Linked DNA regions of Homo sapiens: regions 2, 3 and 4 are each reported to be linked to region 1. The links are microRNA targets in miRTarBase. Many come from high-throughput screens and were not tested one by one. Region 1 holds a microRNA gene; each other region holds the end of a gene's coding sequence.

Region 1 (4,226 bases):
TAAACTTTGATTAGCTTGTTATGGATTGAACTGTGCCCCCCAATTCATAGGTTAAAATCCTAATCCTAATGTGACTACATTTGGAGATAGGGCTGTTAAGGTGGTAATTAAGATTAAATGGGGTCGTAAGAAGGACCTTCATCCAATAGGACTAATATCTTTATAAGAAGAGGAAGAAATACCGAAGATATATTTCTTCCTGAAGGTCACATGAGAACATAGCAAGAAAGTTGCCATCTGCAAGCCAGGAAGAAAGGTCCCACCAGCAACCAACCTGCCGGCACCTTGATCCTGGATTTTTGGCCTCTAGAACTAAGAGAAAATAAATTTCTGTTATTTAAGCCACCCAGTCTGTGGTATATTGTTATGGCAGCCCTAGCAAATGAATTCACAATTCCTATTATGTTTAGGAGATGCAAACGGTGAACAGACATAGCCCCTGGCTACTGGGAATTTGCATTCTAGTTCAAGGGCAGTGTGGGAAATACTGAGTAAGTTTCTTGTATGAAGCTAATCAATTACTTGATACAGAGTCAGCAGCTTGTTTCCCCACAACCTAACATCCAACTGACATTCTTATTGCACGGGAATACTCAAATTATTTGTTTTGCAAATACCTAGCTGAAGAAATGAGCCAGCTGGACCTCTTACCTCTCTCTCATTTTCTGGAAAAACCTGGAATTGCAGCAAGGAATGCATATTCTAGGCTCCCCTCCACAACTGCTCTCCAGGAGCTCAAGGCTCTACACCCTCCATTTCCTCAGCAATGGCTGCAGGAACCACAGTGAGCCCTCTCTGCCCCCTAACTCTCCAGAAGAAAAACAAAGCAACCTGAAGTCAACCCCATCTGTCATATACCCTAGAGGCAGTCTTCTCTATCTGTTTCAGAGACAATGTTTTGGTAACTAAACCACTAACCAAAAACTACTCACTACTTCTTTAAAAATACACAAAAAGAGCAATAGTTTAACAATAGTTTGCCTTCTCTACTGCCATTACAAAAAAAAAAAAAAAACTATAACCAAATAGCCTACTTTAAAGCAATCAATTCTGTTTAGAAAGAGGATTCAAGCAACATAATACCTTAAAATAGAAAGAGAATGTTAAAAAATAATAATAAACAGGAAATGCAGGGATTGCTGACTAGTTATATTATTTCCACTATTTTTTCCACAGCACTGTCTCTAAATTATTGAACTCTCTGCATCTCAAAGCCAAACCCCTTACAAACCAATGAACAGACCTTGATTATTCTAGCCATGTTGCTGGAGCAAATAAAACAAATAGGGCCTCTCTTATCCACAGACACGTCCATTCAACAAAGTCCTTATGTCTAAATATTTGTGCAAGGTATGCATTTTTTTTTTGCAAAGAATTGTTTTGCAAAAGCATCAACAAATAATTTAAAATAATAGTACTAAAGCAATTCAATAACTATTAAGATGATCCAGTCTAGGCCTGGCTGGTGGAAATATTGCACAATTCTACACACAAACAACACAGAATCAATTCAGAGCTTCTAATACAGGCTTCTAGGTTATCCAGAGATCACAACTGCTAAGACCCTGCATTCTGAAAGCCCACAAAATGATTCGCTGGTTACATATACTACAAGTAGAGGACTCCTGCAATGACTTCATTTTTGCCCATGCTTCAGGTAGTCTTGCTTCAGGTACAATGAAAGCAGAGTAAACTTGGGCCAATAAAAGAGAATCAGGCAGGGTGCAGTGGCTCATGCCTGTAATCCCAGCACTTTGGGAGGCCAAGGAGGGCAGATCACTTAGGTCAGAAGTTCAAGACCAGCCTGGCCAACATGATGAAACCCCATCTCTACTAAAAATACAAAATTAACTGGGCATGGTGGTGCGTGCCTGTAATCCCAGCTACTCACAGGCTGAGGCAGGAGAATCACCTGAGCCTAGGAGGTGGAGGTGCAGTGAGCCGAGATTGCGCCACTGCACTCCAGCCTGGGCAATAGAGCAAGATTCCATCTCAAAAAGAAAAGAAAGAAAGAAAAAAGAAAGAATCAGAGTAGAATAAATAAATGATTGTCTTCTTTCCTTTGGTTTTTGGCAATGTAGATATTTAAGCAGGAAATAGAAACAAATAGAAATTTATATGTAAATTCTATTTCCTGCTTAAATATCTACATTGTCAATTTCAATTTGTGGGGAGGAAGTCATTTATTATTTCTTGTTCTTAAAGATTCTTATATTTACATGTCTATTGTTTCTGTTGATAAGTTTCTTAAAAGGTAGAATTCTTTTCTTAATTTTATTACTATACTATCACATGTAAATGGTCACTAAATGTAGGAGTCTCATCCTGAGCAAGGACAAATGACATTGTATTAGAAACAAACTGTAGACCGAATAAGTCTAGACTTAAAAAAAGTCCCACCATTTTCCAGATCCTTGGGGTTTAAACTGACAATTCTTGGGAATGCCATGATAAAATAACTAAGGGTAAAAACAAGACAAAACAAAAACAGTGATTCCTTAGCGTTGTGACAATAAATCCCCAAATACAAGGGTCCCATTTTTATCCAGTCAGCAAGGGTGTGGCCTTGGGCAAAAAGACTACACCTTCTGTAGCTTGGGTTTGGTTCCCAAGTTGTCATGTTTCAGGAATGAAGAACGGGATATTCAAGAAGACTTCTCTCAAATGACGGGCTATTTACAGAGCATTTAGATCTGGTTACTCATCTATCATCAAGCTGTGGCTATCCAGTGTTCTCTGGATCCTTCAGTGGTGTTGTGGAATTTGATTTTTATCATTTTGCTATTCTACCTCTGCCTCTATCTATTTAGTTTTGAGGTATCAATTGCCTGTATTATGGTCCATGTCTAAACACTGCTTTTGGTTATCAAGGGTTGAATATCAGAAAATATTTAGTTAACGATAACAAGATGTACTATAAGCTATTACTAATCAGCAATGTGCTTGAACTTTAAAATGTTTCTTAATCATCAACTTTTGAATTTCATATAAATATAGCAAGATATTTTTGGGCTGCTTTGTGTAAATGGCAGGCTGAGCTAAATAACAAAGCTCATACTAATATTTTTCTATGTAGCCCAAAAGATTCACATTGTTTATAACATAAAGATGGCATAAACAGATGATATTAATAAAATTTAGTCATACATCTCACTATATAGTCATATAGATAGCATATATAGTCAGAAATACAAAATACAAAGAAAAAGTCAAAACAGAACAAAACACGATTGTGAAGTTTATAAGTGGTTAGCTCAAAACTGAAAAAAATATGAATCCCTGCACAATGTAGGTTAACATTCAGTAGATGACAAAATGAACAGAGGTAAAAATTCTTAGATAATTTTCTTTATTTCATATCGCAAACAAATGGCTAAAAGTTAGTGTTCCTTACTGGCAGAAACTCATTTTGGCACAAAGTTTTTCAACATAAAAATTTTTTCAGCATAAGACCATAAACAGTATTTCAAATACTACATTTGCTATTAATTGGAAAGACAGAGTATAAATCTGTCACTTCGGAAATTATCATCACAATAGAGGAATTTCTTCAAAAATACTTACCACATAGGCATTTTAGACACTCTTGTGGTTAAGAAATATTAAATTTATTAGATATTTAATACATGCTTAAGTGTATATTATGTGCCAGACACTCTGAAGGGAAAAAAATTGTAAATAGCTTGGTTTTCCAACTGCCTACTGGACATCTTCACATGGAATAATTAGTTTTTTCAATAACATTCTGACTTTATTTGACATCTACAATGTATTAGAAACTGGAGAGTCAAAGGTGAATACAACATGATTCTGTAGAACCAGACTATCATACTGGTGGCCACAACCAAACTGATCGTCCCATCTCTTCTAAACCTGCTCTCATTTTTATTAATTATCATAGTCACTCAGCTGAAACCTGAAAGTCAATCTTGATGCATCATCCCCAGTAAAAAATGTCTCTGATTGTCCTTTGTAATTTCTGCCTCATGTTTCTTCTCCACACCCTTTTACGGAATTCTCTCCCTCTCATCAGGACCTCCCAACTGGCCTCTCCACCTTTGTTGTCTTTATCCTCCCCCCATCCTAGAGAAGTCCTCCTTAGCATAATCCTCGTCTGCTAAAGACTTTCCATTTCTCCTTACTAACTACAGAGGAAGGCCTGAAATCTCTAGCTTGACTTCCCAACGTCCTTGCTGATCTGACCCCAACTTAGGTTTCCATTATTT
Region 2 (4,000 bases), not on the chromosome of region 1:
AGTGGGTGCGGTAGGAACTGCACAAGGAGAGGACAGTGATGTCGGAGGGAAGGAAGTAGAGAAGGACCAGAGCGCTAGCGGGGAGCGGAAGGAGAGCGGACTAGAGAAGAGACGAGGGGGCGGGGCGGTGAGGGGCGAAACTGATTGGAGCGGGAGCAGCGGGTTTAGGGGGCGGGATTTGGGGCCTAAGATTGGGAGGACTCTGTAACTAGGAAGACCTCGACTCGACCTACCCTCGCCGCCCTCCCTCCGCTGTGATCCAGAGATCTTGGCTTTGGGGAAGCGAGACCCAAAGCGGGGAATGACCTGCGGGGCCCGACCTGCTGTTTCCCAGTTGCTTTGTCCCCTCCTCAGGTTGCCTGGCCACGGCGGCCGCCCTCACCTACGGCCTCTACTCCTTCCACCGGGGCAACAGCCAGCGCTCTCAGCTCATGATGCGCACCCGGATCGCCGCCCAGGGTTTCACGGTCGCAGCCATCTTGCTGGGTCTGGCTGTCACTGCTATGAAGTCTCGACCCTAAGCCCAGGGTCTGGCCTTGAAAGCTCCGCAGAAATGATTCCAAAACCCAGGGAGCAACCACTGGCCCTACCGTGGGACTTACTCCCTCCTCTCCTTTGAGAGGCCCATGTGTCGCTGGGGAGGAAGTGACCCTTTGTGTAACTGTAACCGAAAGTTTTTTCAAAAATCCTAGATGCTGTTGTTTGAATGTTACATACTTCTATTTGTGCCACATCTCCCCTCCACTCCCCTGCTTAATAAACTCTAAAAATCCACTTGTATTTAATTCAGTATCATCCCCATGGTTTTTGGTCTTTGATTTTGGAGGAAACGGACTTTGGAGTGGTGCTTAGAAATCGTGTAGTCTAGTGATTCCCGAACTTTCCTAGTAACAGCCACCCAGGGCACTTTGAAAGCAGAGATTTGGCCAGGCGCAGTGGCTCACACCTGTAATCCCAGCACTCTGGGAGGCCGAAGCGAGCGGATCACCTGAGGTCAAGAGTTCAAGACCAGCCTGACCAACATGGAGAAACCCCATCTCTACTAAAAATACAAAATTAGCTGGGCGTGGTGTTGCGTGCCTGTAATCCCAGCTACTCGCGAGGCTGAGGCAGGAGAATCACTTGAACCCGGGAGGCGGAGGTTGTGGTGAGCTGAGATCGCGCCATTGCACTTCAGCCTGGGCAACAAGAGCAAAACTCCATCTCAAAAAAAAAAAAAAAAAAAAAGAATCTCAAGGTCACTCCTTGAGATTCTAGTTCAGTGGGCCTAGAGTAATGCCATTTGAAAAATACTGGTCTAGCCAGCAGTTTTTCAGACTTTCAGTAGGACAACCTTCCTTCAGATGAGGCCTCCCATAGTCGGGTCAGAGGCAGAGGGTTCTGCCCTCCACTCCGCATAACCTCCTCACCCTGCTCCCACCTCCCTAGAGTCTATGGGGCTCCACTGATCTAGACCATCTAGTTCTTTTTTTGAGACGAGTCTCACTGTGTCAGCCAGGCTGGAGTGCAGTGGCAGAATCTCGGCTCACTGCAACCTCCGCCTCCCGGGCTCAAGCAATTTTCCTGCCTCAGCCTCCCGAGTAGCTGGGATTACAGGTGTGTGCCACCACGCCCGGCTAATTTTTGTATTTCGTATTTTTAGTAGAATACTAAAACAACATGGTTTCACCATGTTGGCCAGGCTGGTCTTGAACTCCTGACCTCAGGTAATCCCCCAACCTCGGCCTCCCAAAGTGCTGGGATTACAGACGTGAGCCACCACGCCCAGCCTAGACCATCTGGTTCTTGACACAGTATAGAAGAGGAAACAGGCTCAGAGAAGCAGTCTGGTACAGTGGGAAGAACACAGTCCCGAAGCTCTCCAGAGATTTGTGTACATAGTGTTTGAGGGTTCTGGAAGAGGAGGCTGAGGACCTGAGCACACTCTAGAAGAGAGGTGACCTGTTAGTTCCTCCTTCATGTAGTTTCAAACAAGTATTCCTGGTCTGTGGTCAGCGCTCCTCAAATGTTGGATTTGAGGACCTGCGCTCTTCCCGAGTGATTGTACTGTTTTCAACACCAGCTTCAAGCTGGCAGAAGGAAAAAGGGAGTGAAGACACACCCCTTCTTGAACCCCCCAACAGTCTAGATCTCAGTGGAGGGCTGTACTAGGGCCAGCTAAGTTGCTTGCCTCCACCATGTTCTCTCAGCTTTGAGGCAGAGATGATAGATGTAGAGCAGTGCACTGTGGTGACCCTTGGCATCCAGATACAAGACAAGGACATGGAGTGATGACCACTGTTTGTAAGTGTTGGTGTCATGGTGTCCCCCTCCAAAAATGTTGAAGTCCTTCTAGTGCCTTAGAATTTGACCTTAGGCTGGGTGCTATGGTTCATCCCTGTAATCCCAGCACTTTGGGAGGCCAAAGTGGATAAATTGCTTGAGCCCAGGAGTTTGCCCAGCCTGGGTGACATGGCAAAGCCCCGTCTCTACTAAAAATACAAAGATTAGCCAAATGTGGTGGCACGTGCCTGTAGTCCCAGCTACCTGAGAGGCTGAGGTGGAAGGATTGCCTGACCCAAGGAAGTTGAGGCTGCAGTGAGCTGAGATTGCACCACTGCACTCCAGCCTCAGTGATAAAGCGAGACCCTGTTTGAGAAAAAAAACAGAAAACGAAGATTTGGCCACAAAGACAGACATACCTAGAAGGCAATGTGCAAACAGCCACCTGATGGGGGCAGGATTGGGGTGATGCGTCTGCCAGCTAAGGGATGCCTGAGGCTACCAGAAGCCAGAAGCAGGTGGAACAGACCCTTCCCCAGCTCCTTCAGAGGGAGCATGGCTCTGCCACAGCTTGATTTCAGATTTCTGGCCTCAAGAACTATGAGACAATAAATTTCTGTTCTAAGCCAGCTAGTTCATGTACCTTCTTACAGAAGCCCTAGGAAGCTAATATTTACTGGCAATTACTCAAATCTTTTTAAACATCATGCAGGTCATGAACGTCCTGTTTGCAAACTCTGCTGAAGGGGAAGAAGGTGTGATCACTGGTTGTTTATCCAAAATCCAAGATGAGCCCAGTTGAAGGAGGAAGCGAAATACACAGGGCAGTGGACCCTCCACATCCAGAAGGTCCCAGCCAACCCTAAGGAGGGGAGTCTCATGGGTCTTCAGGGCTCTTACCCAGGCTTAGGAGGAAGCTACCACCAGGAACCTCTGGTCTCGCTTTTCCCTCCCACTACAAGCCACTTCCCCTCTGGGAACCTTGGTGTCCTTGGTTATATGGTGAGAATAACAGAATTTACCTCACAGACTTGTTAAAGGATCGAGGTTACAAAAGCATTCTGCGAGAGGCTGTCTTTCCTCCTGGAGGTGGAGGCAACAGACATGGAGAGCTTGGGGCTCCCACTTGGCTGGGAAATGGGGGAACATTCTCCCTTCTCTCAAGGTCATGAAGCTGGGAAAGTTCTAAGCACAAACCGAGCCCTGACACCAGTTGTGGCTTCCAGAGAAGTGAGAATGATAATAAATAAGTGTAAAAAGAGTCAACAACACACCCTTTAAGCCAAGAAAAAAAATACATCAGGAGGGACAGTCACAATTGAGTAGACTGAGAGGAGGCGTGAGGGGCTGGACCAGAGGGCCAGGAGGGAGCGAGGCGTGATGGGGTGAGGGCCCCCCTCCCAGCGCCTGGAGATGGGGAGGAGTGGAATAGGCTGTGGGTAGCAGCTGCTGCGAGTCTCCACCCCGACCAAAGCAGCTGCTCCTCCTGTGCCCAGGCCCAGCCCATGCTCTGTGGCCATGCACCTAGCAGGCACCTAGCGGGACAGTGGCGTCTGCTTCAGGGACATGAGCACCGAGCGCAGGCGGGACACATCTTTGCACTGCTTGCTGCTCTTGGGGTTGAAGTCACATAGCTGGGCCACCTTCTCCCACTCTGTGCCTGGGGTCTCCTCCTTGGATTCCTTCACGAAAGCCTCCTCGGATGCCCTGCGGGTGGAGATAGGACGGGCTTTTATAG
Region 3 (4,226 bases), not on the chromosome of region 1:
GAGTAGTATTCCCATCTAAGCCTGTTATTTAAAGCATAACCTGACTTTAAAACGTTTTAGAGGGTCACATAGAAATTTTTGACCCTTTTTCTACTATTATATATGGGCCTCTGTTTATTCTCTTTTCAGTGTTATCTGACCAGTCACTATAGCTTCCTTTCATCTTTCAATTCCTCTGTTCTTTTTAAAAATTTATGATCAAAAAAACTGTGTTCTGTGCTGGGATCCTGGAGATAGATCAGTGCAGGAGAGCAGGGGGCAGGGAAGGAGTGGCAAATCGAATGAGATGAAATAATTCCAGTTCATGTGTAAATAAATTGGCTGGTAGTTTGACAAAAGATTTCAAATTGTTGAAAGTATTTCATAAGATGATTAAGTATTCCTTTATCATCATCAGTCATTTCACTGAACTTTTCAGGAAACTGTTTCATACTCAGTACTATTTTATAGGCCATTCAACAGAGGAAGAAATCAAATCATCCTTTCTAGAAACATTAAAAGTTGCCTGCAGCAAGTCTGATGAAGTGTCATATGGTGAATTTGAAGATTACTATGAAGGTTTAAGTATAGGAATAGTAGATGATGAAGACTTTGTTAACATCTTACGTACTCCATGGGGGATTTAGTCTTTAATAATACATATGTCATCAACACTAAGCATTTTATTGGAGAGATGATATCAATGTAAAGGATGATCAAACACTGGAATATATTTTCCTAGGACTTCCTTTATTCTGGTTTCTTGTTTGTTTGTTTTGTTTTGTTTTGTTTTCTCAAAAATGTTGAATTTGGAAAGAGAACTATCCAGAAAGATAGATGTAGGGGTGTGTTAGTGTTTGTGCATGTGTATGCCTGTTCACATGTCCTTACATTTGTAAAGATATCTTTTTGGTTTATTACTTATCTTGCGTATATTTTAGAGGTCATTTTTTATTAACTTCAGTAGGAAAGTTACATCTGCATCAAACAATATGGCAACATCTATTTATTAACCAAGTTTCCTGTCCTTTCACATTGTTTTTTGCTACCTCTTCCTCAGAATATATTTGCCACCATGGTCAATTTGATAAATTAGAATTGGGCCCAAAGCCAGTGAGATAATTCAATGTGTTTTTAACACATGAAAATATTAAAGGATATGCAAGAGAAATTTTTCAAGCAGTGTGATTATAGATGTTTTCTGTATATAGAATATTTCAAATGATGGAGGTTTACCCCATGATGCTCATTTAAATACTGACTTGTCTTTTAAATCTGTCTTCTAAATTATGTACTGTTGTTGGTTAAATAGAGCACAATGTAGTTATTCTAATGCCCAGTTGTATTTGTTCTTTTATTCTGCTTTTTAACTGTAATCCTTTTTACCAGCATACGATTGTTATTGAGCAATATGAAAGGGAAATGTTCTTTATTAAAATCAATACATTATCTTATTAAACAAAGATCCTAAAAGTATATTGTTGCATATATGAATCCAAGGAATAGTTCAGTAATTATTGCCTAAAATGTGAAAGCATATTTTGTATCCTAAAATGAATGTATGATATTCTAAACATCTGTTTTAGTATAACAAACAATTGAAACATTTCCTTCTAAATATATGTTATTTAATAGTTACATGTATTATAATCATTCTTTCTAAATTCTTTGCTAGTCATTTCTTCCTGGGAATACAGAGAAAAGAGACAACTTTATGAGTTGTTTTCAACTTCATAATTTTAAATTTTCTATGTTAATATAACATAAATTAGAAAAAATAAGTGATTCAAAATGAAAATATTTACTTTGTAGAATATGACTTTAGACATATCACTGTATCCATCTATACTTGGCAGCAACATGAGAAGTGTGATACATGTGAACCCAACAAATTCAAAGTTGCACTTTTCAAGATGTGAGAAGGTACTAAAACTTAATACTAAAACATGAGAGGGAAAATATGTGTAAACCTCTAGTGCTATTTTCACTGGCTAAATTCTTTATTTCTTGATTTTTTTAAAAATTAGGTTATTAAAATTAAAACAATATGCTAGAAGACATTTTGGCAGAAATAAGTCTATAACACTATTTTTGTCACATATCTTTTTCTTGGAAAAATTTATCCAACTATAGACATCTTAAACCCTACAAATTGTTCTTGTTAAAAATGACTAATACTGGGGGTGCTCAATATGCATATAGTGTTTTTCATTGATAATTTTTATTTAGTTCTTAAGAAACCTGTTCTTAATGTTGGCATGTCACATTTTTCTGTTACTATAATCAGAAAATGTATAGTCTGTTATACTGTAAAAAAAAAAAAAAAGGGAAGCTACTTTTGGAATGTAACGTGTTAACATGACAGCATACTCTTAGTATTAATCTTAATCTTCCTAACATAAGCATTCACATGTGGTTATTTGTAGGAAATAGCTCTATTTATGAGATTTTTTTTGGTGTATTTTGTTAGAATTGGTGACACAGTAAATCATTCTGCTTTTGGATTTGCCTGACTGCCTGCATTCTTCTTTGATTTTGGTATAGTAAAATCTGTTATTTAGTGTTAAACTTAATAAAAGAGCATTTAAGAGAAGTGACATTTCAAACATCCACAACACAACTGACTTTTGAAATCCTATGCTTAATAGTCTTTGTAATTCTAAAAGACCTTTTGAAAATGTTAAAATATTAAATTATATGTTGTAATGCTGTTACATGAATTTTATAGTTATGTATATTTTATAGATCTCTATGTCTTTGTAAGTTACTTGCTTGTATGCTATATAATTGCTTTCTCAGTTAACCATACTGTTTATGGAATTGTATATACTGATTTTTCTGTTTTTATATTTTAAAAATAAAAGTTGAGAATTTTAAGGAAAAACATTTTATTAAAAAGACAAGGTATATTATATAGGAATTTTAAGCTAACTTTTAATGGAAAGGACATACATATTTGCATGATGGAGCAATCACATTATAGTTAAACATGTATGTCCCTGTTTTAAATTTTATAGTATATAAATATATGTGCTAATGAACCAGCGACTCTGCATAGAGGCAGTCACTTAGAGTAATTAATAATCTTGATACAGCTGTAGATCATATCTTATTTTACATATTACTTTTGACTTCCAGTTTAAGTTGTTTGTTATCAAGTATTTCAGGAGAGAATTGTGTACATTAGGCTATGTTTACTGCAGATTATGTAACATGCTTTTATGAGATTATAGTTTGTAGTGCTTGCAAATATAAAACATGTACCCTGATAAACTATAATCACTACTAGGTTGACCAGCAAGGACAAACATGAAAATGCTTAAAAAAAAGAAAGCGCTTAAAACAAAGAAATAGAAGGTAATGGGCATATATAAAATAAGCCAAGCAAGAGAAGAGCAAAGACAATCTGCAGGGTGGACATGGATGTATTCGTTTCTGATCATGAGAAGAGGCTCTTGTCATACATATCGTTCCATTTTTATTTTAAAGTTCTATAAACTTCTGAGGTAAACTGATTTCTTGGATGTACTTAATAAAGAATAAATGTTTCATATTGGAGCCACTGTGCACTTAATCATTATTTATTCTGCTAGTCAGTTGTTTGTACAGGGTGAGTGGCACTACCCTTGCAGTAGGCCAAGGCTCTGAGATATTCTAGATTTTTCTCACACTCTCTATTATCCACTCAGTCTCAGGTGCTATTGGTTCTTGAATTTATCCATTGGTTGTTTAAATCTCTCTCGTTCACTGTTTTCAATGCTTATGCCTTAGTTCAAATTCTTACCACTTCTCATGTGTACTCCCCCTCATCAACTCTGCCTCCTTCTCAATCTTGTTTGAACCCATTGATGTTGGAATGCCCTTTTACAATATACATTACTTCCTGAATAAAATTCTTCCCTGATACCTCATATCTCTCAGAAAAGTTCAATCTCTGACCTTAACACATAAAACCTAAAAGATCTGGTTTTCTTAAGCTCATCTCCCTATACTCAGCTCACTCCCCACATTCTTCCAGTCATTCTGAACTATGTAACAGCCTTTAAAATGGATTGTGAGATTTCCAGCCTCTGCGCTTTCATATCTGTTCTGCTACTTTTATCCAAAATTATTTTCTGCACTTAGTGCATTAAATTAATTCATACTGATCTTCAAATACTACCTTAAGAATAATGTCTTCTGAAAAGTTAAATCAGACAAACTCTTGAATCTGATATATTGGGATCCCATTGGCACCCTGGCTGTAC
Region 4 (4,226 bases), not on the chromosome of region 1:
TTACAGTGACAGAGAGAAACACAGAAAACTGGATGATCACAGGAGTAGAGATCACAGGTCAAATTTGGAAGGAAGTTTAAAAGATAGATCTCATTCTGATCATCGTTCTCACTCAGATCATCGGTTACATTCAGACCACCGGTCAAGTTCTGAATATACGCACCATAAATCTTCCAGGGATTATAGGTATCACTCAGACTGGCAAATGGACCACAGAGCTTCCAGCAGTGGCCCTAGGTCACCACTAGATCAGAGATCTCCTTATGGCTCCAGATCTCCATTTGAACATTCAGTTGAACACAAAAGTACACCGGAGCATACCTGGAGTAGTCGGAAAACATAACAAAAACTGATACTTCGTCTTTCTGGACTTTTCTTTTAGCCATATATCATAAACCAACACAGTAATTGCCTTACATGACTTGAAAGATATAAACAGATCTTCTATCAGTAGCAGTATTGTTACTTCTTTCCAGGATGCAAGGTCTATTATCCCAACAGAAGAGAAAATATTTTTATATTTAAGGATTATGCTGCACTGTACTACAAAATTGTAGTACTTTTTTTTGTTTTCTTTTTTAAAGAAATGGAAAATGTTTACTATTACAGGGACCTCAACACTGCCCTCCCATACAGGCTGGATAAAACTGTTTTTAAGTCAGTGATTTTAGACTGACCTCCATTTAAATTATGTTTATATATGAACTTTACTCTGACCTGTGATCATGTTTCAGGAAGGAATGAAAGAGAGTTCTTTCTTAATAAAGAAAAACACTCAAGGACTTTGTTCATTTCCAAAGCTACTTGTTTACATTGTACACTGCGACCACCTTGCCGCTTTTCATCACAAGCTTGAATATTTAAATTCTGTACTTATATCTGTAAAATAGCCAGGAATTTCCTGTTTGTGATCTATTATGCCTTTTTACAAAAAAAATGGCTGTAAATTATTGTAAATATTAAAGGAACTTTCCTTACTTCCTTCCCTTTCTCAGGCTTTTTTTGACTGTTCCTTTCCCTACCAACTCAGGCCTTCTTATTAAAAAAAAAAAAATCAGTGTAATAACACTTTTTAATGATTTGTCTTGATGGAATCATTGTTTAGAATGTAAAAATGGGGAAAGGGGCCACTTAATTCCATTAGTCCTCTTTTTATACTGAATATTTTATTAGATACATGTTATTCCCTTTTTTTTCCTTTTTTAGTCAATATTGTGTTTGTAGTTTTAAAAAATGGCGAGATATGTAAAATCTAAACTGCATGCTCTGGAAACACTTTTTTCAGATGCATCTGGTTTAAAAGGGTAGGTGTATAAACACTTTTCAGAATCCAAAACGGCCAAAAGTTATTGTAAATCCGTTTGTTTTCCCGTTTTATGTGGGCAATAATGTCAAATGTGCTATGCAGCCAGGTTAACATTTTAGATAAACTTGATTGACTTTTAATATAAACTGTTACAATGCACACTGATTGTATATAAAAACGTTATATATGACAAATTAAATTTAAGAAAAAGGATATGTGGGCTCCTGTAATTTTCTGCTGCATTCTTACTCCCTCAAGCACTTACCACCACCACCACCGCCCCCTACCCCCGTTTTTAAGTAACATTTTGCTGCCAGAAAAAGTATTTTGGTAAGCAGTTGAATATTTGTAATGTGTAGCATTACAACTAAATCTGTTTTGGAGACTATGAATATTCCTATGAAGTAAAACTTAGGTCATAGACATTTTTGTTGGCCCCTTTTGGCTTCCTACAGATATTATTATGGGATGCTTTATATTTATTCACAGATTTTTATTTTGTTTTATATTCAGCGGGAAGTTTTTAAGTCATGTGGCACACATTCTTGCATGTATGCTTTGATGTAACAAATTTGAATCTTTGACGAATATAAGTATGTGGACATAATTTCTATAGTATTGCTATGTGTGTCACTGTTAATTAGCTGTGGGAGCAACCTACAGATATTTGTCCATAGGTGTATTTTTTAATATTTTCCTTTGTCCAATTAGGTTTATGTGTATAAAAGCTTGTGGGTTTTTTTGCTTTTTGTTTTGTTTTTTGCAGTAATTTCTCTTTCTGATACAGTTACCCTGAAGAATAATAATGCTTTGTTTCTTTTCTGGTATATGAGAGAACATGTGAGGGAGTAGCTCAGTTTTTTAAACATCTAATTTATAATTAAATATAAAAGTAATGAAGGTAGTCCTGGCACACATTTTTGAAACTTTTATCACTTTTCTCTACATTTAGTATGACTATTTTATTCCACAAGATAGCATTTGACTAATTCATAATGCTTAAGTCATAAGATGGTGGCTGGCATTTTTTAATTTATTACTAAAAGCTAAGATATTTGCATTATATTGTGCAAATTTCACAGAACAATGTTGCATTTTCTGAGATAAGGCTCTAATTTTTTAAATAGTGCTACATTTAGTTGAAAGTTTCAGTCAGCTAGTTAGCTGAGTTGAATGAAAAATATAGAACTGTATGTACATTTATCAAATGATAAAATATGTTCATTTTTGTAAGAAATCAGAAAAATTAAGACGCAATGGTGAAGAACATTAGTACATAAATATAGCAGAACATTCTCCATAAAATATTCTGTTTTCATTCTGCTTTGTTATTTTTATCCAGTTATGTTTAATTTTTCAAGGGTGAGAGATTATGTATAGTACTGTACCAATTAACCTTCCACTTTTATACAATAAATAATTCTTACTAAAAGCAATAGCCTGTTTGCTTATAAAGATATTCTTTGTTTAGAGTATGTTAGAAATTAATTTTCAGACTATGGAAAATGAGTTTGAATAATTTTATTTTCAGAGTGAGTAGCTTAATGAGAACCTTTTTAATTTTATGTAATATAAATTATAATTTCTTTTTGTAGTTAATATGAAAAGGTTGAGTAGGTTATTCATTTTCATGAAGTTTATCAAGAATATGCTCTAGGAGTAAATGGCCTGATTTTTACTCTACCCCATTACTATTTCTAACTAGAAAATAATCTTTGCACCCCAAATTAGCTGTCATAGCTTTATAAATACAAATAGCTTTATAAATACAACAGCTTAAAAAGGGATAGGGATTTGGAAGAGCAACTAATTTTTAAATACAGGATTTTAAAAAACGACTTTCAGCTTCATAGGAAACTGCAAAAATATTTTAAAATATTTCTGAGTTAATATGTAAAAGCACATTAATATAGATGCCTCTATTAAATATACATTAAATACTCAATTTGAAAATGCAGACAAAACTTAGATACATTTTAGCATTGTACAATAATTGTAGTGAATGGAGGATGTTATAGAGGACACAACTAGATAGTAATGCGACAAATATTTTGAGATAGTGTCAAAATGTGTGTGAAAATTTCTAAGATTCAATTATAGATATTTGGAAGAAAGTTTGAGATTATATTTTCTGACAATAACTAGTAATTGATTTTGTAGAACACTTCATGCTAATTTTCTTTAAAAAATTAGGACCTAATAGGTTGACTCCATTACAGAAATTCATTGAATTCTCATAGGAAGATCTAGGAATAGGAAATCTTAGCTATGGTGTAAAAGGATGAAAGATGAGATTACTGGGGAAAGTAGGATTAATGAAAAATGTTAAAAGGTTGTTCCAAGTACCTATACAAATTCTCTAATGGGGCTTCATGTGCTGGATTTTCTACACTAAAAGGCCACTAACCACTCTGCCCTTTAGCTTAAAAAAAAAATTACATCTATATTTGAAACAAAATTTGTAGTTCCAACTCCCAAATGAATGAAATTATTTTAATTCGATGTTCTACTCCACATTTGAGTCCTGATCTAAATATGAAACTAAAGAGGTATGAACAGTCTAAAACTCCTAATGATTCTATTAAATGAGCTAAGGATATTGTTTCCGTTGGTGATATGCAAACTTTATGTGACTGAAAAATGTGTGATGTATTATCATTTCATTATTGTTGACTAATATTAATTAGATTTCCAATCTAGAATGAGCTATGGAACTGCCACTAGTTACTTTTTTTTATTCCTTCTGTTTACTTTTCAAATCTTTGATTTGTCTCTAGTGTTCTGCAGGCTGACTATATTAAGTCCTGGTGTGGTGGTTTTATTTATTTATTTTTTTTAAATTTCTTTTTTTATCAGCTGTTGCCTCTTACCCACTTCTTTTTACTTTCTGGAATCCTATATCATTGCTATCATAAGACTT

The links. The annotated mature microRNA hsa-miR-4503 reads UUUAAGCAGGAAAUAGAAUUUA and lies in region 1 at 2,122-2,143, opposite strand. An mRNA with a match to its seed (bases 2 to 7 or 8) in the 3' UTR can be bound and repressed. Matches are read on the target gene's strand: a 7mer-m8 pairs with bases 2 to 8, a 7mer-A1 pairs with bases 2 to 7 and ends in A, and an 8mer does both.
Region 2: the mRNA of CLTB is a reported target of hsa-miR-4503. Seed matches in the 3' UTR shown: 7mer-A1 at 3,539-3,545.
Region 3: the mRNA of CAPS2 is a reported target of hsa-miR-4503. Seed matches in the 3' UTR shown: 7mer-m8 at 2,618-2,624, 8mer at 3,296-3,303 and 7mer-A1 at 3,315-3,321.
Region 4: miRTarBase lists CHD1 as a target of hsa-miR-4503. Seed matches in the 3' UTR shown: 7mer-m8 at 2,303-2,309.

What each region holds. Positions count from the first base shown.
Region 1 is chr14:36,950,237-36,954,462 of GRCh38, forward strand. It overlaps MIR4503 (microRNA 4503), which reads right to left and starts at 2,155; the gene lies at 2,073-2,155. All of the region lies in intron 1 of SLC25A21 (solute carrier family 25 member 21), which reads right to left.
Region 2 is chr5:176,388,977-176,392,976 of GRCh38, forward strand. CLTB (clathrin light chain B) reads right to left here. Exons shown (of 6, transcript NM_007097.5): 6 at 3,525-3,969. The coding sequence ends at 3,798. HIGD2A (HIG1 hypoxia inducible domain family member 2A) reads left to right here. Exons shown (of 2, transcript NM_138820.4): 2 at 355-785. The coding sequence ends at 521. It also overlaps a transcript of ARL10 not described here. Among named protein-coding and RNA genes, the nearest start is that of HIGD2A, 2.2 kb to the left of the region's middle. RefSeq lists enhancers at 1-460, 1-52, 253-472, 294-977.
Region 3 is chr12:75,275,290-75,279,515 of GRCh38, reverse strand. It overlaps CAPS2 (calcyphosine 2), which reads left to right. Exons shown (of 17, transcript NM_001355024.4): 17 at 451-3,537. The coding sequence ends at 626. The region is part of intron 2 of CAPS2-AS1 (CAPS2 antisense RNA 1); the gene reads right to left. Among named protein-coding and RNA genes, the nearest start is that of CAPS2-AS1, 19 kb to the right of the region's middle.
Region 4 is chr5:98,852,497-98,856,722 of GRCh38, reverse strand. It overlaps CHD1 (chromodomain helicase DNA binding protein 1), which reads left to right. Exons shown (of 36, transcript NM_001270.4): 36 at 1-2,738. The coding sequence ends at 343. Among named protein-coding and RNA genes, the nearest start is that of CHD1-DT, 74 kb to the left of the region's middle.